3 separate regions of the Homo sapiens genome follow, and all the other regions are linked to region 3. The links come from fine-mapping of genetic effects on gene expression. A gene starts in region 3. Each other region holds a variant in brackets. All regions are shown on one strand. Distances are from middle to middle.

Region 1 (6,836 bases), 20 kb before region 3:
ATAGCTCACCAACTCTGAGGTTGTTTAGAATTTCAGAGCCCATGAGGACAGTTGAAATCTCTTCACCCCCGACCCCAGATCCCCTCCTAGTAACAATTTTTTTTTAAACTACAAGCAGGGCACCCCTTAACAGTAGGGATTGGGTTTATTCCAAGGTTTAGTTTTGTTCACAAATCTGGTGCTTTCCCAGAGTGGGCACAGTGCCCTCTAGTGTTCACCTGCCAGGCCGGCTGGCACCTGTCATTTGCTCTTTGGAGGTAGAAGGGGAAGTGGAGGGCAAACTGTGCCTAGCAGGCATCCGCAGTCAGTGGCCACCATTGCTGCCTTCCACTTGCCTCAGAAATGAAGAGAGTTTTTCTTTCTTTCATAAGCAGAAGAATCACTGTCTTTAAATGTGTAGACCTGCCAGAAGTCTTTCCCTGTCTCTGTAGCTCTGGGGAGAGATGAGCTTTTTATTTGGTTAAGAGAATGGACTCTGGAGCCAAACTGCCTGCGTTCAGGTCCCAGCTCCACTACTTGTGACATTGAATGAGTTGCTTATTTTCTCTTGGTCTCAGTTTGCGTATCTGCAAAATGAGCATGGCAGTGATGTGCTTCATGGGTTGTGGAGCACCTCATGGGCGAAGACAGTGAAACGCTTGGAGAACTGTCTGCCAGGTAGGAAGCACCTGGTTAGCATGAGGCGAAAAACTCCAGAGCTCTTGCATTCGCCAGGAGCACGTCGGTTCCTTCCTGACGGGGGCACTGAAAGGCTTTGTGAAGCAGGTTGTGCATACGGGGGCAGGGAGAGGAGGACATTTGGAAGTAACTGTTCAGTGGAGTGGCTCACAGATGGGAGGGTATGGGCTTATTTGGAGAAAGCCAGTGCCCAGTATGGGTGGGGTATAGGAAGTTAGGAAGGAAAGTCACAAGAGCCTCCCAAGTCATCCTAAGTCCTTCCACATGCCGTTGTCTTGGGTTCTAATTCCCAGTGGAAGGGAGTGTAGCCACCATGTTACCATCCCCCAGCCCCTTGTCGCTCCCACTCTGCTCCCAGCACCATCAGGTCTTTGGAGAAATGTAACTCCTTGTCATAGAAAGGTCAGAAGAGCCCCTGGAGGCAGCATCCTGGTGAGGTGGAGCTGCTGTTGTCTGGAGACCCCACGGGAAGAATGGCATTTGCTGCCAGCCTCCCTCTCCTGGGAGCACTGGGCACTGCCTGCCCTGCCAGCCTCTGGCCTTGCCATGATGCCAGCTTTCACCAGCTGTTTTTTTCTGCTTCAGCCTCAGAGTTGACACCTCGGTTTCCCCTGCACTCCCAAGGGTGCTGTTAGGCTGAACAGGGTGTTTCATCAGTGACGGCACTGATTTAGGTCTGTGTCTGCGTTCTTCTCTCCTCCTTTCCTGGCTGCTCTCTCAGGGACCCCCAAGTGGTGGAGGCAGCCCTCCTGCCACACATGGTGCAGCCCCCCTTGCATTGGATTCTCCTGTCCTGCCGCTTCTGGCTTCTCTGGGAGCAATTGTGGCTTTTTGAAGTCTAAAATGGGAGCAGGGGATTAAGATAGGGTGGGGCAGCACAAAAAAATGCCGTATCTCAGAGTGGAGATTTGGGCACAGAGGGTTACAGGCACAGAATATTCTTTGATTTAGAAAAGTGGCACCGTCACGCCAGCATGCCTCTCCAGCCTCCTGGGGTCTTGGAGCAGAGATAAGGAGAGCCTGACCTTTCAGGGGTCTTCACCCTGCAGCTCACAGGGCCAGTGATCACAGCTGCCGACCTTGCTGAGCACCTACTCTGTACCGTGCACCATGTGCCACCTGCGGTCCGCTGCCTTGGTGACTCCACCTCAGCCATGCTGAGACAGCTGCCATCATCTCTCCTTCCACATGTCGGCAGGAGTGGTTTGCCTGACGTTCCTGTGTCTGACTCAAGAACCCTGCGTTTAAGGACTGGGCAAGTTGTCATTTGAAACAGGCTCATACCTGGATGCAGTGGCTCACGCCTGTAATCCCAGCACTTTGGGAGGCTGAGGTGGGCAGATCACGAGGTCAGGAGTTCGAGACCAGCCTGGCCAACATGGTGAAGCCCCATCTCTACTAAAAATACAAAAATTAGCCGGGCGTGGTGGCACGTGCCTGCAGTCCCACCTACTCGGGAGGCTGAGACGGGAGAATTGCTTGAACCTGGGAGGCGAAGGTTGCAGCGAGCCGAGACTGCGCCATTGCACTCCAGTTTGGGCAACACAGCGAGACTCCATCTCAAAAAAAAAAAAAAAAAAAAAAAAACAACTTGGGCTCATGAGTTCCCATGGGACTCTCTGCACTGCTGGTTGGTGGTGGGGTTCATTGCTTTTCTTTCCTTTTTTTTTTTGTGAGTCACGTTCTTCTACTAGCAGAGTTTGTTTTAGTTGTCATTGCCAGCATTTAAGTGACCTTGAGCCAGTATCTTCCTTTTTCGGCGACTCAGTTCTCCTTTCTTGGTGGTGACCTCTCAGTGCCCCCAGGTCAAGAGAGGCCACCACGGAGGAGTGTCTGGTTGGCTATTTGAGGAAACAGCTCTCCAGCCATGTGGTTTGGGGTCTCGGAGGTGGACACACACAGAGACCCATCCATGATTATGACCCAGTGAAGAACCATAGAGGAGCTGCCCCAGGTTTGAGGAACCAGCTAAAAAAGACGCAGGCTGGCCTGGTGGGAGCATCACGTGCCTGGGCTTTTGGGCGATGGAGCAGCAGGAGGCAGTGGCCGCTGCCAGCTGTGCGTAAAGAGACAATCAGGTGCTCGTGCAGTTGGCCGGGCTCCAAGAGCCAACCATCCTGAGGGTTACTTAGCAGCCTGCAGGGCTCCAAGCGCAGCAGATAAGGTGCAGGCCGCAGCTGGTCAGGAGGATAACCCAGATTAGAACATGGTGTCCGGTGATAGCCAGGCTTCAGGGTGACCCACCGCAGCCCAGTGTCCTGCTTCTCCCCCAGCCCACTCTCCCTCAGCACTGATCAGCTAGGGCAGGCACTTGCAGAGGGCAGAAAAAAGATTGAACGCAAAGCAAATGTTTTGCTCTCTGTAGAATGGGCTGTTAAATCCTTCATTAAAGTGCAGCCTTATGTGATCTGTCATTGAGCTGCACTGTTCAGTGTGAGGAAGGCTACCTCCGGCAAGCCAAGTGCCTCTGGTGGGTGAGACAGTGACCACAGGGGCCCCAGGAGGCCTGTGGGCGTGACGCGCTCTGCCTGTGGGTCTGGGTGCTGGTCGGAGGTGTGTGCGGTCTGTGAAGATACTGCTAGCCAAACGCTTAGGATTTGTGCACTTAGCAGTGTGGATGTGACGCTTTCCTTCAGAAGCTGGAAGAAAACTGTATTCTGTGGTGGCTTCAGAGTCCATTCTCTCACACCTGTATTTTCTTTTACAGCTGAAACTAGAGGACCGTTCTGTGGTGCCCCGAGATGTGGTCCGGCACATGCGATCCACCGTGAGTCCTGCGTCCCCACCCCAGCCCCGGGCCTGGGGGCAGCCACCTTAGGGACTTGAGCCTGCCCACCTC[G/A]CACTCTGCATGTGGGAGAACTGGCCAGCTCTGCAGGGGGTGCGCTGGGGTTGCCTGGGCTGGGTCTCCCCTGGTGACCAGGGCTGCTGCACCACGGGACTTGCATGTCTCCTCCCTCCCCCAGGACAGTCAGTGTGGCACGGTGATCGACGTCAACATCGACTGTGCCGTCAAGCTCATCGGCACCAACTGCATCATCTATCCCGTCAACAGCAAGGACCTGCAGCACATCTGGGTGAGCCGGCCCTGTCTTCTCATCATCCTTTCTGGGCCCTCTGGTTCTCTCGGCGGCACGACCTCTGGGCTACAGCCTCCTCCGTGCTCTTGCCAAGCACAGCCTTCCTGGGTCAGAAGGCGGAGCACAGCAGCCAGCTGGCTCCTGTAGCCTTGTTTTCGCTGCTTTCAAGTAAGCCATTTAGACATGAGGTCAGGACGTGCCCTTCCCCAACCCCAGCATAGGCTGCCAGTGTGGTTATCTTTAAGTGTTTTTCCTTTCTCCTCTAACATTTCTTTAAAAAAATAAATTATTGGAAATAGTTTATTTTTTTAATGATTTCAAACTTACCAAAAGTTGTAAATTCCTGTGTCCCTCCATCCAGGTTCCTCAGCTGTTAAGATTTCACTTCGTTTGCTCCATCACCTTCCCTCCCTCCTTTTCCCCGAGATCCCCCTCCGGTCTTTTTTCTTCCCAAAACATTTGACAGCAAGCTATAGATGTGATGCCCTGTCACCCACCCCGGAATACACACACCTCTTGTGTGTTTTCCAAAAATGAGGACAGCCTCCTGTGCAACCACCATATAACCCCCAGATTGGGAAATCAACGTTGATAATTACTGTCCAGTCCACAGACCACATGCAGTTGTCCCAACACTACTCTTTTCTTCTTTGCGGATCCAGGACCCAATTCAGGAACACATCTTGCATTGAGTTGTCATCTCTTCATTTTCTCTCCAATCTGGAATCGCTTCCCAGCCTTTCTTTGTCTTCCATGCCCTGAACAGTGATACATTCAGTAATTTGACCCTCAGCCTGGGTCTTCCTGGTGTTGCCTCATGCCCACGTGTTCTTGGCAGGCCCGCCGCAGAGCTCTGCCCTGGTTCATGGTACCCCATAGCCAAAGTGCTGGGGTTGTTCACTTTTACCCCTGGTCATGTTGGTGTCCACCAGGTCTCTCCACCATAAACTCACCATTTACCCCCTTTAAGTGATTGTATTTTGTGGGAACGTAGTCCCAGATTATGTCTATAACCTGTCATTTGTCAAACTGAAATCCACCAGCTTTGGCCTCCATTCACAGTTCCCCCTGCGCCAGCCATTGCTCTGATGTTGCTAAATGGTGGTTCTATGACTCCCTTGTTCCCCTCATTTCTTTTAGCTGGCATTCTGCTCTGTAGAAGAGCTTTATCTTCTGCCCTATTTATGTATTCTTTTTTTTTATCAGTATGGACTTAGAGATTTCTGTTTTATTCATTGGTTATAATTAATTACTACTATTATCTGTTCTGTTGCTTGGATGGTCCCAGATTTAGCCAGTGGGAACCCCTTCAAGCTGGCTTTCATGTCCTTCTCACATGGCCCTTTTTGTTGGTTTTTTAAGAACTTTCTTTCTTTCTGGCATGAGATGTGCCAGGCTCATCTTGTACTTTTTGTGATCCAGCCCCAGAATCAACCATTTCTCCAAGAAGCCTCATTGTTTTCAGAGAATGGTATTTTTAAAACCCAAGATCTGGATGCTAGGTGTGCTAATTGCTACTTGGCTCTTTTGGGACACACTAGGAAATACATATGTATTATATGTATACACACATCTAAATATGTCACTACCTGCTCTATGTGTATATTAAAATATATGAGTTCAGGCAGAGTTCACGGGCGCAGTGGCTCACCCCTGTAATCCCAACACTTTGAGAGGCTGAGGCAGATGGATCACTTGAGCTCAAGAGTTTAAGACCAGCTTGGGCAACATGGCGAAACCCCATCTCAACCAAAATATATGAAAAAATTGGCCAGGCACGGTGATGCATGCCTGTAGTCCCAGCTACTCAGAAGACTGAGGTGGGAGAGTCGCTTGAGCCCAAAGATGGAGGTTGCATTAAGCCAAGATCACACCATTGCACTCCAGCCTGGGCAATAGAGCAAGACCCTGTCTCTAAAAAAAATAATAATAAAGTAAAATAAAATATATGAGTTCATCCTGATAGATCCACTTCCACCTAAACACCTCAGACTCCTCTTCCTTCTTCTCCTTCCTGCTCCCTTTCTGTTAGTAAACACCTGGGCACCTTCTCCAACAATGAGGGACTTGGCTCTCGATATCCTTGATGTGTTAACGTATTTACTCAGAGCACTGTCCATGTAGCCACCCCCCAGTGGTGTGGCTGCCTCCTCTGCCTGCCACCTCCACAGCCTACTTTGCCAGGTGTCCTGTGTCCATGGATGTCCCATGTCCATGGATGCCATCAGGCCTCTCTGCCCCTGCATCACCCACCCCGTTCCCTCCAGGCAGCCCCACCACCACCACCACTTCCTCCTCACTGGGAAGAGCAGCTGGGATGCAGCCTAGAACTTGTAGGGAGGGCCTGCTGCAGCAGCTGTTTAGGGCTAGTAGCCAACCGGTCCAGTCAGTGAGCTGTCTAGATCCTCCCCCATCCTGTCTTCGGTGGGGCATAGAGGAATCTGTGCCCTGGACATGAACGTTGTCTGCTGTGTCTCACTGCCCCTGCCTCCTTGGTCTGCAGCCCTTCATGTATGGGGACTACATTGCCTATGACTGCTGGCTGGGGAAGGTCTACGACTTGAAGAACCAGATCATCCTGAAGCTATCCAACGGCGCCAGGTAGAGTCTCACCACCAGAGAGCCATCGGCTTGGGAAGGATAGCCTCTTGGAAAGAGGGGAGGAGGAGGGTGTTTCCTCCTGGGGACAGTGATGACAGGTTTGATCAAGGGCAGTGACAGATGTTGCAGGCATCCAGGGCCTAACCCTGTACCGTTCTCCTTATCTGCCGTGGCCTATTTCTGTTGCTCAGTTTCTGATCTGTCCTGGCATGGGGAGAAACGTTTTCACTGAGGATATCTGCTAGAGGCTGATGCTTTACTTGAGGCACTGTGATGGTGCTGAGCAAGCACTCCAGTGGCACTTGGGGTCTTGTTCGTTGTGGGAGAGTTTCTTGTACTACCTCGGGCTGAGTTGATGGTAGAAGACGAATTGTGCTATTTAGGGCATGTGGGCGCATTGGCATCTCAGAATCGCAACTTTTTGGTACTCACTGTGTCCCCTGGTGGAGACCAAACCTCTGTTCTCTGTTTTAGGTGCTC
Region 2 (6,836 bases), 22 kb after region 3:
ATTTGACACCAACTACCTGGGGTTGGGCCTCAGGTGATGCCTTCCTCCACAGGACAGCCCTCACTTCAGACACCAGCTGCAAGTTCAGGGTCCTCACTTTTGACCAGATGGCCTCAAATTCAGGGGTTCCCACCACCCCCTCAGATTCCTAATTCACTAGAATGACTCACAGCACTCAGGTAAATGCTGAAGTTTCATTTACAGTTTTATTACAGCAAAAGAACACGAATCAGAACCAGCCACAGCCAGAAGCACTGCGTCCGGGCTGGGTGGGTCCCCGGTGCAAAGCGCTGTTATCCTCAGGGACACCTTAACCCTCCTGGTACCTCCATCTGTGACAATAGACAGAGCATCACTAACCAGGGAAGCTCACCCGAGCCTCTGTGTAGAGTTGTCCTTGGGGTTTTATATGCAGGCATGATGGAGGAATCATACACCACACACTAAACTCAAGCTCCAGCCCCTCCGTCCCCGGAAGTCAGGCTGATAACAAGTGGCTCAAAGACCCAACCTTCTAATTTTGTTTTCTTTTTCTTTCTGCTTTTTTTTTTTTTTTTTTTTTTGAGACAGGTTCTTGCTGTGTTGTTCAGGCTGGAGTGCAGTGGTGTGATCACGGCTCACTGCAGCCTCAAACTCCTGGGCTCAAATGATCCTCCCTTATGGTCCCTCTTATGGGACCGTAAGCATGCACCAACACACCCAGCTAATTTTTAAATTTTTTTGTTTGTTTGTTTGTTTTGAGACAAGGGCTCCCTCTGTCGCCCAGGCTGGAGTGCAGTGGAAGGATCATAGCTCACTGTAGCCTCAATCACCTTCCATCACCCAGGCTCCAGAGCCACAGCCTTCTAATCTCACGGTTGGTCTTCCTGGACCTAGAGTCATTTGCATAAATGATCGGGTGTCCTCCGAGGCCCGATCGTGAGTAACACAGACACTACTATCACTCAGGAAATTCTGAGGATTTACAGGTTACCTCCCAGGAACCAGGAACAAAAGCCAGTGGAATTCTCAATTCCACACAGGGTTGACAGCGTCAGTGTCGAGAGGCATCTCCCAGCCAGCCCCCTCAGTGGGTGGTTCCCTGAACCAAGAATTGGGGGTGCATTTTATTCTCAGCGGTGGGCTCTCCTAATTCCAGGAAAACGTGGAGGATCACACAGGGCACCTCACTCCTCCTTGTCATCCACTCTCCATCTCATTTAGCTCTCACAGCAACCTCCAGGCAGGGTCAGGCATGAGCCACTGTACCCAGCCTTTTTTTTTTTTTTTTTTTGAGACAGAGTCTCTCTCTGTTTCCCCGGCTGGAGTAAAGTGGTGCGATCTCTGCAACCTCCACATCCTGGGTTCAAGCAATTCTCCTGCCTCAGCCTCCCAAGTAGCTGGAATTACAGGCTCGCGCCACCACACCCAGCTAATTTTTTGTATTTTTAGTAGAGATGGAGTTTCGCCATGTTGCCCAGGCTGGTCTCAAACTTCTGACCTCGAGTGATCCGCCCGCCTCGGCCAGCCAAAGTGCTGGGATTACAGGCATGAGCCACTGTGCCCGGCCTAAGGCTTGATTTATACATTTTAGGAAGACAGAAGTTACAGGAAAAGACATAAATGGACAGAGGTAAGGTATACATTGGCTCAGCCCAGAAAGGTGGGACATCTTGAAGTGGGGGTGGTTTCCAGGTCATAGGTAGATTTCAACATTTGCTGATTGGCAATTTGTTGAAAATGGTAAGCTCTGCCTGAAGAGCTGAAATCAGCTTGAGTTATGGTAAGTGGTGGGTGGTTGTGGAAGCCAAAGTTCTTGTCTTGTAGATGACGCCTTCAGGTAGCAGGCTTCTGAGAGAAGAGATGTGAATGTCACAGGTGCCAGTCTCTCCAGAGAGACCTGAGAAGGGAAGGGGATTCTCTACAGAATGCAGATTTCCCCCATAAAAGAAAGCTTTGGAGGGCCATTTCAAAATATGTCAAAAAAATGTATTTTGGGAGACCAGGCGCGGTGGCTCATGCCTGTAATCCCAACACTTTGGGAGGCCAAGGTGGCTGGTGGATCACCTGAGGTCAAGAGTTCAAGACCAGCCTGGCCACCATGGTGAAACCCCATCTACTAAAAATACAAAAATTAGCTGGGCATGGTGGCAGGCACCTGTAATCCCACTACTCGGGAGGCTGAGGCAGGAGGCCAAGGTTGCAGTGAGCCAAGATGGCACCATTGCACTCCAGTCTAGACAAGAGCGAAACTCCATCTCAAAATTTAAAAAAAGAAATATACTTTGGGGAAAATCCTTTTGTTACTGGTGGAGGGTGTCCAGGTTTTTGGTGTCTTAAATAATTGTACAAAATTCACAAACAAACAAAGGAAAGAATGAAGCAACAAAAGCAGAGACTTATTGAAAACAAAAGTACAGGCCGGGCGCGGTGGCTCACGCCTGTAATCCCTGCAGCATTTTGGGAGGCCAAGGCAGGCGGATTACTTGGGGCCAGGAGTTCGAGACCAGCCTGGCCAACATGGTGAAACCCCGACTCTACTAAAAATACAAAAATTAGGCCAGGCGCGGTAGCTCATGCCTGTAATCCCAGCACTTTGGGAGGCCAAGGCAGGCGGATCACGAGATCAGGAGTTCAAAACCAGCCTGGCCAATATGGTGAAACCCCCATCTTTACTAAAAATACAAAAATTAGCTGGGCGTGGTGGTGCGTGCCTGTAATTCCAGCTACTCAGGAGGCTGAGGCAGAAGAATCGCTTGAACCCAAGAGGCGGGGTTTGCAGTGAGCTGAGATCGTGCAGCTGCACTCCACCCTGGGCAACAGAGGAAGACTCTGTCTCAGAAACAAAACAAAACAAAAATTATCTGGGCGTGGTGGCGATGCCTATAATCCCAGCTACTCAGGAGGCTGAGACA[T/C]GAGAATTTCTTGAACCTGAGATCGTGTCACTGCATTCCAACTTGGGTGACAGGGCAAGACTCTGTCTCAAAAAAAAAAGAAAAAACAAAACAAAAGTACACTCCACAGGGTGAGAGCAGCCTGAGCATAGGGGCTAATTTTTGGGGGTTTAAATACCCTCTAGAAGTTTCCATTGGTTACTTGGTGTACGCCCTATGTAAATGAAGGGATGAAGTAAAGTTACAAAGTCATTCACTCGGTGTACGCCCTATGTAAATGGAGAGGATATTTCCTGTCATAGTTGAAGTGTTTCCATTTGATTCAGTTCTAGGAAGTCCTTAGAGTCCCTGCTTCCAGATCCTATTCTCCTGTCTCACTTTGATTGCCTTTTTTTTTTTTTTTTTTTTAAGAGACAGGGTCTCACAGCTCACTGCATCCTCAACCTCCTGGGCTCAAGGGATCCTCCCACCTCAGCTTCCCAATTAGCTGGGAATACAGACATGAACCACCATGCCCAGCTAACTTTTGTGTTTTTTGTAGAGATAGGGTTTCACCATGTTGCCCAGGCTGGTCTTGAATTCTAGGCTCAAGCCATCCGCCCGCCTTGGCCTCCCAAAGTGCTGGGATTACAGGCGTGAGCCACCACGCCCAGCCTTATTTTTTTTACTATTTTATTTTTTGAGACAGGGTTTTGCTCTTGTTGCCCAGGCTGGAGTACAGTGGCGCCATCTCAGCTCGCTGCAACCTCTGCCTCCCAGCTTCAAGCAATTCTCCTGCCTCAGCCTCCTGAGTAGCTGGAATTGCAGGCATCTGCCACCATGCCCAGCTAGTTTTTTGTATTTTTAGTAGAGATGGGTTTCACCATGTTGGCCAGGCTGGTCTCAAACTCCTGACCTCAGGTGATCCTCCCGCCTTGGCCTCCCAAGGGAGGCTGGGATTATAAATGTGAGCCTCCATGGCCGGCCCATAGCTGCCTTTGGACATTTGCATTGTTTGGGGGTTTTTAGCTCTCATAGACCTGGACCCTCTTGAACTGACAAATTTGGCACAGTTGAGCCAAGAACCTTGTGACTTCCTGAATCATTTGCCTCCTGAGTTGTTATAATGTCTCCTTAGTGTTTGCCTCCTGCCTTCTCAGCCCCTACAGCCCTGGCCTTTTTCCTTGCTCCGTTTCTGTCTCTTCCACCCCATCTTGCCAGTGCAGCTATGAATCCGGCCATAGGGGCAAGGAAGCATGTCATTTGGCAGGAGCTTCTGCGGTGCACAGAGAGAAGGCACTAGAAGCCCCTTGAGGGTTTCCACTTGAACCAAAGTCTTCAATGATGTTCGGGCATTTCAGACCCCCTCAAATGCCTCCAAAGACTCCCACCAAGAGCTACTGAAACCGAGGCATAGGTGAGGTCGAGGACTCAGTGCCTTGTGATTCCATTTCAGATTTTCCAGAGACCAGCCCAGCAGCTGCTGCCTACCACTGTCCTTGCTGAAGCTGGGAAGGGTCACTCCTAGCAGGCTTGGCTCTGTCTGCCTGTATTTTGCTCCTGCCCCCAGCATGGTTTCTGGTACCCTATAGAGAGAATCAGCTTAGAGATCCAAGTTGGTATTATTTTTAGAAATAAAGATCACTCAGTCCCAGCTTGCTGAGGCTTGTTTGGAGAATGAAAACAGGGAAAGGCCTCATATTTTTCCAAAGTTCAAGTTGGAGTGGCGCAACGTGGATGCAAAACTTCTGAATTATTGCCTGAAATGTTCTTTATCCTTGCAAAGACTGACCTTGTCTTCCAATTAGTTCCTCCCTTGGGGACAGGGCTGAGCAATCCTAAACACACCCCTCTTTGTCTTGTCCTGTTTGTTCCTGGACAATATTTCATGCCAAATCTCTACTTATGCCACCCTTTGTCTTCTAGTTTCTAGTACAGAGGAGATCTTTCTATAATTCATGCCGAAACTGGCCCGGTTAACAAGCAGCTCATTTTTTAAAACTTGAAAACTGAAATAGGGTTGTAGATGCAAAATGTCATTTTGTGGAGGCACAGCTGTCTTCGTTCTGGCAGGAGGTATCCAGCTGGTCTGGAACCTCAAGAGTCAGTCTGGTCTTATAAAGAGAAACGGTAAAAAAAACAAAACTGGTCAAGTGAAGTCTCACTTCAAACGTCAAAAAAGACATGTTAAGGCCGGGCGCGGTGGCTCACGCCTGTAATCCCAGCACTTTGGGAGGCCGAGGCGGGCGGATCACAAGGTCAGGAGTTCAAGACCACCCTGGCCAATATGGTTGAAACCCCATCTCTACTAAAAATACAAAAATTACCCAGGCGTGGTGGCGCATGCCTGTAATCCCAGCTACTTGGGAGGCTGAGGCAGGATAATTGCTTGAACCCAGGAGGCGGAGGTTGTGGTGAGCCGAGATTGTGCCGTTGCACTCCAGCCTGGGTGACAAGAGCAAAACTTCATTTCAAAAAAAGAAAAAATCAGCCGGGCGCGGTGGCTCATGCCTGTAATCCCAGCACTTTGGGAGGCCGAGGAGGGCGGATCACAAGGTCAGGAGATCGAGACCATCCTGGCTAACACGGTGAAACCCCGTCTCTACTAAAAATACAAAAAATTAGCCAGGCGTGGTGGCGGGCGCCTGTCGTCCCAGCTACTCAGGAGGCTGAGGCAGGAGAATGGCGTGAACCCGGGAGGCGGAACTTGCAGTGAGCCGAGATTGTGCCACTGCACTCCAGCCTGGGTGACAGAGCAAGACTCAGTCTCAAAAAAAAAAGAAAGAAAGAAAGAAAAAAATCCCTGACCCATCAGTAAAAATGAAGACTCTGTGGAAGTTGTCAGAAGCAAAATTGAGTCACTTGTGTTAAAACAAAACAAAAAGCTCTGACAAATAGAGCTGGGAAAGGCTATAAAGAGAAGGTTCTTATGCATAAATGCCAGATAACAAAAACTATCACGGAAGACTCAGCAAAAATCACAACCTTGCACAAAGGCCACTGAAACCTTACACAAAAAATACTTCTGCGAGGGCATCTGCCCAGCAACTGCCTGTACAACCTGGCACTGGGTCACACTTGTTGTTGATCCTTGTAGCCAAGGAAAATTATCCCAAAACAATTGTGTAATCCCCCTCAATCTTCCTCTAAAAACGTTCGTCCTCCTTTACCTAGTTGGATACACACATAGTTTACTATGGCACACATATTCCCATTGTCATGCCCGATCCCAAATAAACGTTGCTTTATTTCAGAGAGTCTCTCTCTCTTTTTTGTTTTGAGACAGAGTCTCACTCTGTTGCCCAGGCTGGAGTGCAATGGGGCGATCTCGGCTCACTGCAACCTCAGCCTCCCGGATTCAAGCGATTCTCCTGCCCTAGCCTCACTAGCAGCTGCGAATATAGGCGGATGCCACAACACCCAGCTAATTTTTGTATTTTTAGTAGAGACAGGCTTTCACCATGTTGGTCAGGCTGGTCTCGAACTCCTGACCTCAGGTGATCCTCCCACCTCGGCCTCCCAAAGTGCTGGAATTACAGGCGTGAGCCACCATGCTGGGCCACAAATTCTGTTTAACAAGATTAAATCTGACTCCAAGTCCTCTGCCAGGACTGGTACATAAAAGAGCCCCAGGGCCTTCCGCAGTTCCTGAGCTTCAAGGAGAGCCTCCGGTCTTCATTCTTTCCTCATCTTTATGAGAGTCCCCAGGGTACTTGTTGGAGTCCCCACCTCCTCGTCCAACTGTCCCTTCAATTTGTGAGGACTCCCCCTCTCCAAGGCTGGGGCACTCAGGGACACTTCAGTTCTTGCCTTTGGGAATTTAGGCTTTCAATAATAAAAGCCTCAATTCCAGCTGCTCGGGAGCGTCATTTGAACCCAGGAGTTTGAGTCCAGCCTGGGTAACATAGTGAGACCCTGTCTCTTAAAAAATAAATAAATAAAAATAATAAAAGCCTCTTAAGGGAGTCTCAGGTCCTCAAACAC
Region 3 (6,836 bases):
GCTGGGGTGCAATGGCGCGATCTCGGCTCACTGCAGCCTCAACCTCCCGGGCTCAAGCGATTCTCCTGCCTCAGCCTCCCAAGTAGCTGGGACTACAGGTGTCCGCCACCACACCCTGCTAATGTTTGCACATTTTGTAGAGATGAGATTTTACCATGTTGCCCAGGCTGGTCTCAAACTTCTGGGCTCAAGTGATCCACCCACCTCAGCCTCCCAAAGTGCTGGGATTACAGGTGTGAGCCACCACGCCTGGCCCATCAGTTTTCTAATGCCCTTAACTCAGATATTTCCCCTTTCCTGCTAAATCCACATGGGGCTCTGATGAGATTTGCTGGGACTAGCTGCTTGTGTGGCCCTGGCTGAGACATGCCAGCTCCGAGCTGCATCCTGTGTGTGGTCAGGCAGCTGGCTGAGCTCTGAGGCTGCTTCAGGTTGGAGGTGCTATAATTATCAGGGTGGTAGAGGCCCCCCCACCATTAGGCTGAACCAGCTCTGGTCCTGAGTCCCCCACCAGAATGACTATGCCTGGGGCCAGTAAAATCCATTGCCCATCCCAGGGGGCACCATTGGCCATCATTACCATTAAATTCTATAGTCCCGGCCAGAACGAGAACCCATTCTCTCCCCAGTCACCAGGACAGGACGAGCAGGCTGGGAATGTCACTTTATTTGGATTTGGTTCGTGGGGTGGGGGTCTCAGAACAAACTAGAAGGCCTTACATAGGCAGCTGGGCCCAGCCAGCTGGGCTCCTGACCCAGGACTTCATTCTGGCCTGTCCCCCCAAAGCATAGCCTCCACCTTCTCACCCTTCTCCAGAGGAGTCTCCTCCACCCCCACAGGAGCTGTGGACAGGCCCTGCAGCCCTAGGGAAGGAGGAAGGGTCCTGCAAGTAGACACTAAGGCACAGCGCGGCCCAGGGGTCATAAGGGCTCTTCTGGCGGTGGCATCTGCTGGGGCTTCCAGCTGGGCGGGGGCTCCACGCAACCGCTGACCATCCAGAAGTAGTTTGGGTGCACCTGGCCCTGCACGGCCTCGCTAACCATCAATTCCCCATCCACTGCAAACACACCTTTCCCATCCTTGGGCTCCAAGCGGAAGGCGACCACGGGCACATATACCAAGTAGGGGCATTCATACTCCATATGCCTGCCCTTCTCCATGGCCAGGAAGAGGCGCAGCAGCATGGCACGAGACACTCCCGCCCGCACGTAGAACAGATGCATGACGCCAGCTGCACAGCGGCCCATGGGTGCAGCAAACATCTCACTGCCCAGGTGCGAGTGCAGCAGTGCCAGGACTAGCACAAAGTCCTCGTCGGGCACCACTGTCCAGTGAGAGGGCACTGGCTCCTCCAGTGGCACAAGGTGTGCATCTACCGGGCCCTGCTGGACCACAACGGGGGAGGCAGGTGTCTTGGAACCCACTCTTCCTACAGGGAGGTAGGCCAGTCGGCCGCGGTAGGTGCGCAGGGCTGCCAGACGCAGGAAGGTGCCCAGAGTGAAGCGCATCTCCCCCAGACGCCGATACTTCTCACTCTCTAGGTCCACATCAGCAATGAAGCCCCAGGCCAGGCTGAGCACAGAGAAGAGGCGCAGCCCCGAAGCCGTGTGCAGAGACAGCAGGTTCATGGGTGACAGCAGCCGGCGGCACAGCAATAGCGTGCAGTTGGTCAGGAGGTCTTCATTGGTGACCTGCTCATAGCTGCAGGGGGAAAAAGTCAGATAAGGCAGGACAGGAGCCCCCATGTATCCCCCGCTTCCTCCTCCCGGGGAGTGGGAGCTGGCAAAGCGCCATGTGGTCCCTGGGGAGTTGGCAGGACTGGTAGGTGACAGATGGAGCAAATGGAAGCAGTCAGCTGGGGTCACCAGGAGAGGGCCCCAGGACTAAGGGAGAAGGGGAAATGGAAATGATCTCAGCCTATGGGAGCTTAGACAAGAAAACCCCCGCGGTAGAGGAGCACTGACGGGAAACAGGCCTACTCTGGCCCTGGGCTCTCACCCAGCATAATGGTTCAAGGAAGCTGCCAGCGCGTTGCCAGAGCCTGCTGGGAGGCTACACAGGGGCTTCTGGATGGCGGTCTCCCAGTCAGGCCGCTCCATGAGCCCGTTCACCACCTGTTGAAGCACACGTGGCCTCAGCCTGGGACGCACCGCGCCAAGCCCCAGGCCTAGCCGCGCAGTGCGGTCCTCACCTCGTGCATCAGCCCGTCTCCAGACATGACCACCAGAGCGTCCCAGCGGCCCAGCTCCTCCGACCGCACCAGCTCCCGCGCGTGGTTCCGCCGCTCTGCAGGGAGACCGGCAGCTATCAGGACTGGGGGGGTCCCCTGCCAGGGGATGCTCCCGAAACCCCCTCCGAGAGGTACTCACCAGTGAGCATCAGCGTGAAGGAGATTTCAGCCTCAGCCAAAAGGGGCTGCACGTGACTCCGGAAGAGCTGCAAGGCCTTGCCCTTGCCGCCGCGCGGGTTCAGCAGCACCAGCACGCGGCAGGGCCGCGGGAGCACGCCCCGGGGGCCGCCCGCTGAGAAAACAAAACCAAAGAGGCCACGTCCGCAACCGACCACTAGGGGGCCACGGGTAACAATGGGGCACTAGTGTGGGAACTTGGTGCCCGAAACACCCCGGTAATTGACCCTGGCCAGAGGAGCGGCCTTTGCTGGGAGACCTGGGGTGGGGACGCGGCGCCCCTGCCACCCCCTTCCTTGGCTCAGATTCGGCCGGCTTCTGGCCTCGTGAGGGATAATGTTTCTCCCGATCGTCCACAGCCCCTTTCGTCCAGCTGGGCGTTCCATCATTCCTGGCGAGGAACAGGAATCCCCCTACAGCCCTTCCCAGCAGGAACCCCACAAACCTGGATCCATAACCTCGACCCGCGGCTCCCGCTGCCAGGGGGTCCCTGGCGCTGTGGGGGCGCTGCCCGTGGCGGCGGCTCCTGCCTTCAGCTCCTTATCGGTGCTGCCCAGGCGGGCGTCGCAGGGCCGGCTGTGGGGCTCGCCTTCCCCGCCCGGAGCCGTGGCTGCAGGAGCACCGGCGTCATTCCCTGCGGCGGCTGGACCTGAGGGAGAGAAGACAGCGCTGGCGGAGTCCGGGGCCGCAGCTGCCAGAGGTGGGGAGCGCCCGACTAAATCCCGGGACCACGCGCGGGGAGCCAGGTTCCCGGGAAGTCCAGAGAGCTGAGGTCCGGTGCCTCCGAGGGCGCCCCCGCCGTGTGACTAAGCCTACAATCCCTGAGAAGGGCGCCTGCTCCGGGGCTTTCTCCCTGGGGCTTGGGGTTCGGTTCCGGCCCGACGGATGAGTCAGAGCCCCGTGGCTCCCTCCGACGGACTAGCTCCTCACCCCTCGGGGCTGCCAGGGGGAGGGGAGTCCAGCTGCGTAAAAATCCCAGAACTTGAGCGGACATTGCTGGGCACGAAGTTCTGGGAGAGGATCCCTGCCCCAGCCATCCAGGTTGCCGTGTCCCCTGCCCGGAGCTCCAGAGCGGTGGGAGCCGCGGCGCGCGCTTCTCAGGGCCCCGCTCCGTTGCGACGCGCGCGGCGCTCGTGGGAGCCGCTCCCGGGTCGCGCCAAAGCCAAGCCCGAACCGGGCCACCAGCTGCCGCCTGCTCTCGCCCAAGCGACAAGTGGCCCAGTTCCCGGGGCCCCGCGAGGGCGGGCCGCACAGGAGCCACGAGCGGCGCGAAGGCAGGGTGGGCGGCCCTACCCAGTCGGTCCGGTTTGCTGGGGAGGCGCCACCGCCGTTCCCTACAGTGGCCTGGGGCGGAACGCAGCTCGTCCCAAGCTCAGCCCACGTCTGAGGGACTGGAGCGCCCCGCTGGAGCGGACTCCCCGGCCTCGCTCCCTCCGGCCTCAAACTTTTCGCTCAACTTCGCAGCCGGCGCCGCGGAGCGGGGAGGGCACTGAGCCTCGGCGCCGGCCTGGCTCCGCCCCGCGCTCCCGGGGGTGGAACCTGAGCCCGGCGCGGCCTCGGCCTCTGCCCGCCTCCGGCCTCAGCGCGCCGCCTCCGGCACGGCCCGCGCCCACGGCCGGGCCACGAGCTGGTTCCCGCCCGGGTCCTAGGAAGCGGCAAGCGCGCCCCCGCCGCTCGTCCTAGGCGTCTGGCTAGAAGGCGGCGCCGCGACCTGGCCGGGTGAGCTGAGGCGGCAGGCCGCGAGGCGCGGAGTCCCGGGCCCGGCCGCGAGCGCAGTGTCTGGGGCGCGCGAAAGCGACCGCGCAGCGCAGACGGAGGCGCGGGCTCCGCGCGAACTCGTGTCGGAGCGAGCGCCGGGCGCGCGCGGCTCCGCTCTCCCGGGGGACCCTTGGTTTCACCTCGACGCCACGACCTCGCCCCCGCGGGTGCTGTCGGCGCCGGGATGCAGCGCCCCTTTTGCGCGCTCTGCCCTAGCCCACCCGAAATTCGAGGCCCGCACGCCACCCGGGGCGCCTCTCCAGGCCGGGGCGTCTCGCCCGCCGCCCACCAGCTTCCCTCTTTCTTCCTCCCCCGCGCTCCCACGGAGGTTATTTTTAACTTCCCGACGCTGCAGCTGGGCTACCGAGCCTGAGGCCGCCTAGCGCGCTGTCCCGGGTAGAGCAGGCGACAGGCCGGGGGCTCCGAGCCGGAGAGGAGGCTTGACAGTGTAGATGGGCCTGGGGGCCCCCGTCGGGATTGGAAAGCCAAGCATGTGGTACGTGCCCCCCGCCCCCTCTGGCTCAGCGTGAAGAAGGGGCGCCGGAAACGCGCTCAGAAGTTGTCACTTCTTTGGAGGCCAGTAGGGACGCGTTTGTCAGTGTGTTTGTGATACACTTATCGCGGCAAGCCACAGAACGTGTCCGCGAGCACCTCGAGTTAGATCCCTGGGGGGTTACGGCGGAGACGGAGGAAGAAGTTGCCAAGGCCCATTGGTGACCTGCCCAGGTAGGGCCAGAGTTAGGAGAAACCAAGCCCCTGCGGGAGGCTGCGGGGCTCGCGCGCCCCCGCCGGCCCCACCCGCCCCCACACACCTCTCTCATCGCTTCTTAAAGTCGAGAAGAGGCAGGTCCAGGAGGAGCACGCAGCCAATTAGCCGGGCGGCGCCCTGAACTCCGGCACGCCTCCGCGGTGTCTTCTCTTCCGGAGGACCCAGGCAGCTCGGCCCCGTTTCCCAACACTTGGGGGGTCAGACGGGCGGGACCCGAGAGTCCCCGGGCGGGTCGGGGGGCACTGGCTGGGACGCGGGGTCCCTGGGGCCGCAGCTCCGCGCGCGTATCGGCGGGTGCGCCTTCGCCTTGCGCGGCCCCCGGGCAGTCCCCGCTGGGTCCAGAGCGTCCCGAGCGCGTTCCGGGAAGGTGACTCAGCGACGCGCTCAGGGGTCGAAAAACTCCGAGAAACAGGAACGAGGGGAGGGAGCAGGGGCGTCATCCCCGACTCCTGGCGTCGCGGCGCGTGTCGGAATGATGGGTCCTGCACCTCCGAGCCCCCCACCCCCTTGCTCCAGGAATCCGGCGCGGGCGGGGGAGAGAGCCCTGCAGCCGCAGTGCCGCGGTCATGCGCTGCGGGGACGCGAGCGGCGGCTGTGGGAGGAGGGGGCTCCGCGCGGGAGCCCAGGACCAGATCCGTCCGCCCCTCCCCTCTCCTCTGCCTTCTTCCCCTCCTCTTCCTCCAGCGAGGGACTTTGGTGCCTAGAAAACGCGAATCGGAGGCTGTGCTCCCCGAGATCTCAGCCTTCGAGGGTACTGGCTGCGGAGATTAGCTGGGGCAGCCTTCCCCGTCTGCTCCCCGCCCCGGAGAGCATTTCCACCAAATCTGAAAAGCTCTGTCATTAGCCATAGAGTCTGAAGAGGGGAAACTGAGGCACAGGGAAGCACTGTGAGTTCGTGGTGATAAAGCCCACCTGGTTCAGGGTCCCCCCTTTTTTTTTCCTCCTGGGGCCCCAGAAAGGTCGGATCCTGCGCCTCCAGGCCCACTACCACCAGCCTTGAGTCCGCGGAGCGGGCGGGGGCGGGGTTGACTGCAAACTGAGTTGGCAAGGGGAGGCGGGGCACGGGCTCTTTATCCAACGCCTCCGGGCCCCAGCTCCCCTCCTGGCTCTGGAAGGCCCCGCGGGAGGGAGGCGAAGGGCAAAGCCCTCTGGCCCCGGTTCCAGGCCGCACAATGGGTCCTCTGTCCTCCCTGGCGCCTAACCCCCTGCCCCCCTCACCTCCAAGGCCTTTGCCCCCCTCATTCTTGTCATTCACTTCCCCCAACCCAGGCTGCCTTTCTCCAGACCCCTTTCCCCTTCTCCCTTTCTAAAGAATTTGATCCTATCTCCAGAAACTCCCCCAGCTGCATCCCTGCTCAGAGAGGCAGGATTGGCCAAGAGCAAGATGGTTCCCCTTCCCACGGTTGCGGGTCGGGGGGCGGGCACTTGGATCTCTCAAGCTGCCAGCTTGGCCCGTTTCCCACTGTACTTTACTTCCTTTTTTAAAAAAGAAAAAAGGACAAGGCGGGAAGGAGTTGGGGGGGCCTGAAACCCTGAGAGGTGAAGAGGCTTGCACAAGCCTCCAACCAGTTCCCCACAAAGCAGAGAAGCAAACCTGTGAACCCAGACCCCACGCTGAGAAGCCAAGTCCAGCCAGAGCTCCCCTCTGGGCCTCTCTGTATCCCAGGCTATTTCTCCCTGAAGGGCAGGTATCTGGGGATCTGGTGCCTGGTGGATTGCTTGCCGCAGAGCTGTGGCGTCTCCCTGAGGAGGAGGAAGCAGCAGGCCGGGCGCAGTGGCTCACTCCTGTAATCCTAGCACTTTGGGAGGCCGACGTGGGTGGATCACCTGAGATCGGGGGTTGGAGACCAGCCTGACCAACGTGGAGAAACCCGTCTCAAACCCCGTCTCTACACCGGGTG

Alleles and levels. Alleles are on the strand shown, and positions count from the first base shown. SD is a standard deviation of normalised expression in the study named. Not every link is listed here.
As copies of T replace C in region 2, the expression in esophagus mucosa of the gene that starts at base 3,899 in region 3 goes down (moderate effect, 0.72 SD a copy in GTEx).

The links.
Region 1: its variant is fine-mapped to the expression of SPHK1 in whole blood (INTERVAL, PIP above 0.99).
Region 2: its variant is fine-mapped to the expression of SPHK1 in esophagus mucosa (GTEx, PIP above 0.99).

Annotation. Positions count from the first base shown.
Region 1 is chr17:76,402,122-76,408,957 of GRCh38, reverse strand. UBE2O (ubiquitin conjugating enzyme E2 O) reads left to right here. Exons shown (of 18, transcript NM_022066.4): 2 at 3,386-3,445; 3 at 3,642-3,752; 4 at 6,259-6,356; 5 at 6,831-6,836. Among named protein-coding and RNA genes, the nearest start is that of SPHK1, 21 kb to the right of the region's middle. The variant G/A (reference allele first, on the strand shown) is at 3,518.
Region 2 is chr17:76,359,617-76,366,452 of GRCh38, reverse strand. No RefSeq gene overlaps it. Among named protein-coding and RNA genes, the nearest start is that of PRPSAP1, 9.1 kb to the right of the region's middle. The variant T/C (reference allele first, on the strand shown) is at 2,895.
Region 3 is chr17:76,381,672-76,388,507 of GRCh38, reverse strand. SPHK1 (sphingosine kinase 1) reads right to left here and starts at 3,899. Exons shown (of 6, transcript NM_001142601.2): 1 at 3,702-3,899; 2 at 2,854-3,057; 3 at 2,371-2,523; 4 at 2,193-2,287; 5 at 2,000-2,115; 6 at 653-1,702. The coding sequence starts at 2,863. The coding sequence ends at 922. RefSeq lists silencers at 3,532-4,231, 4,812-4,951, 4,972-5,261.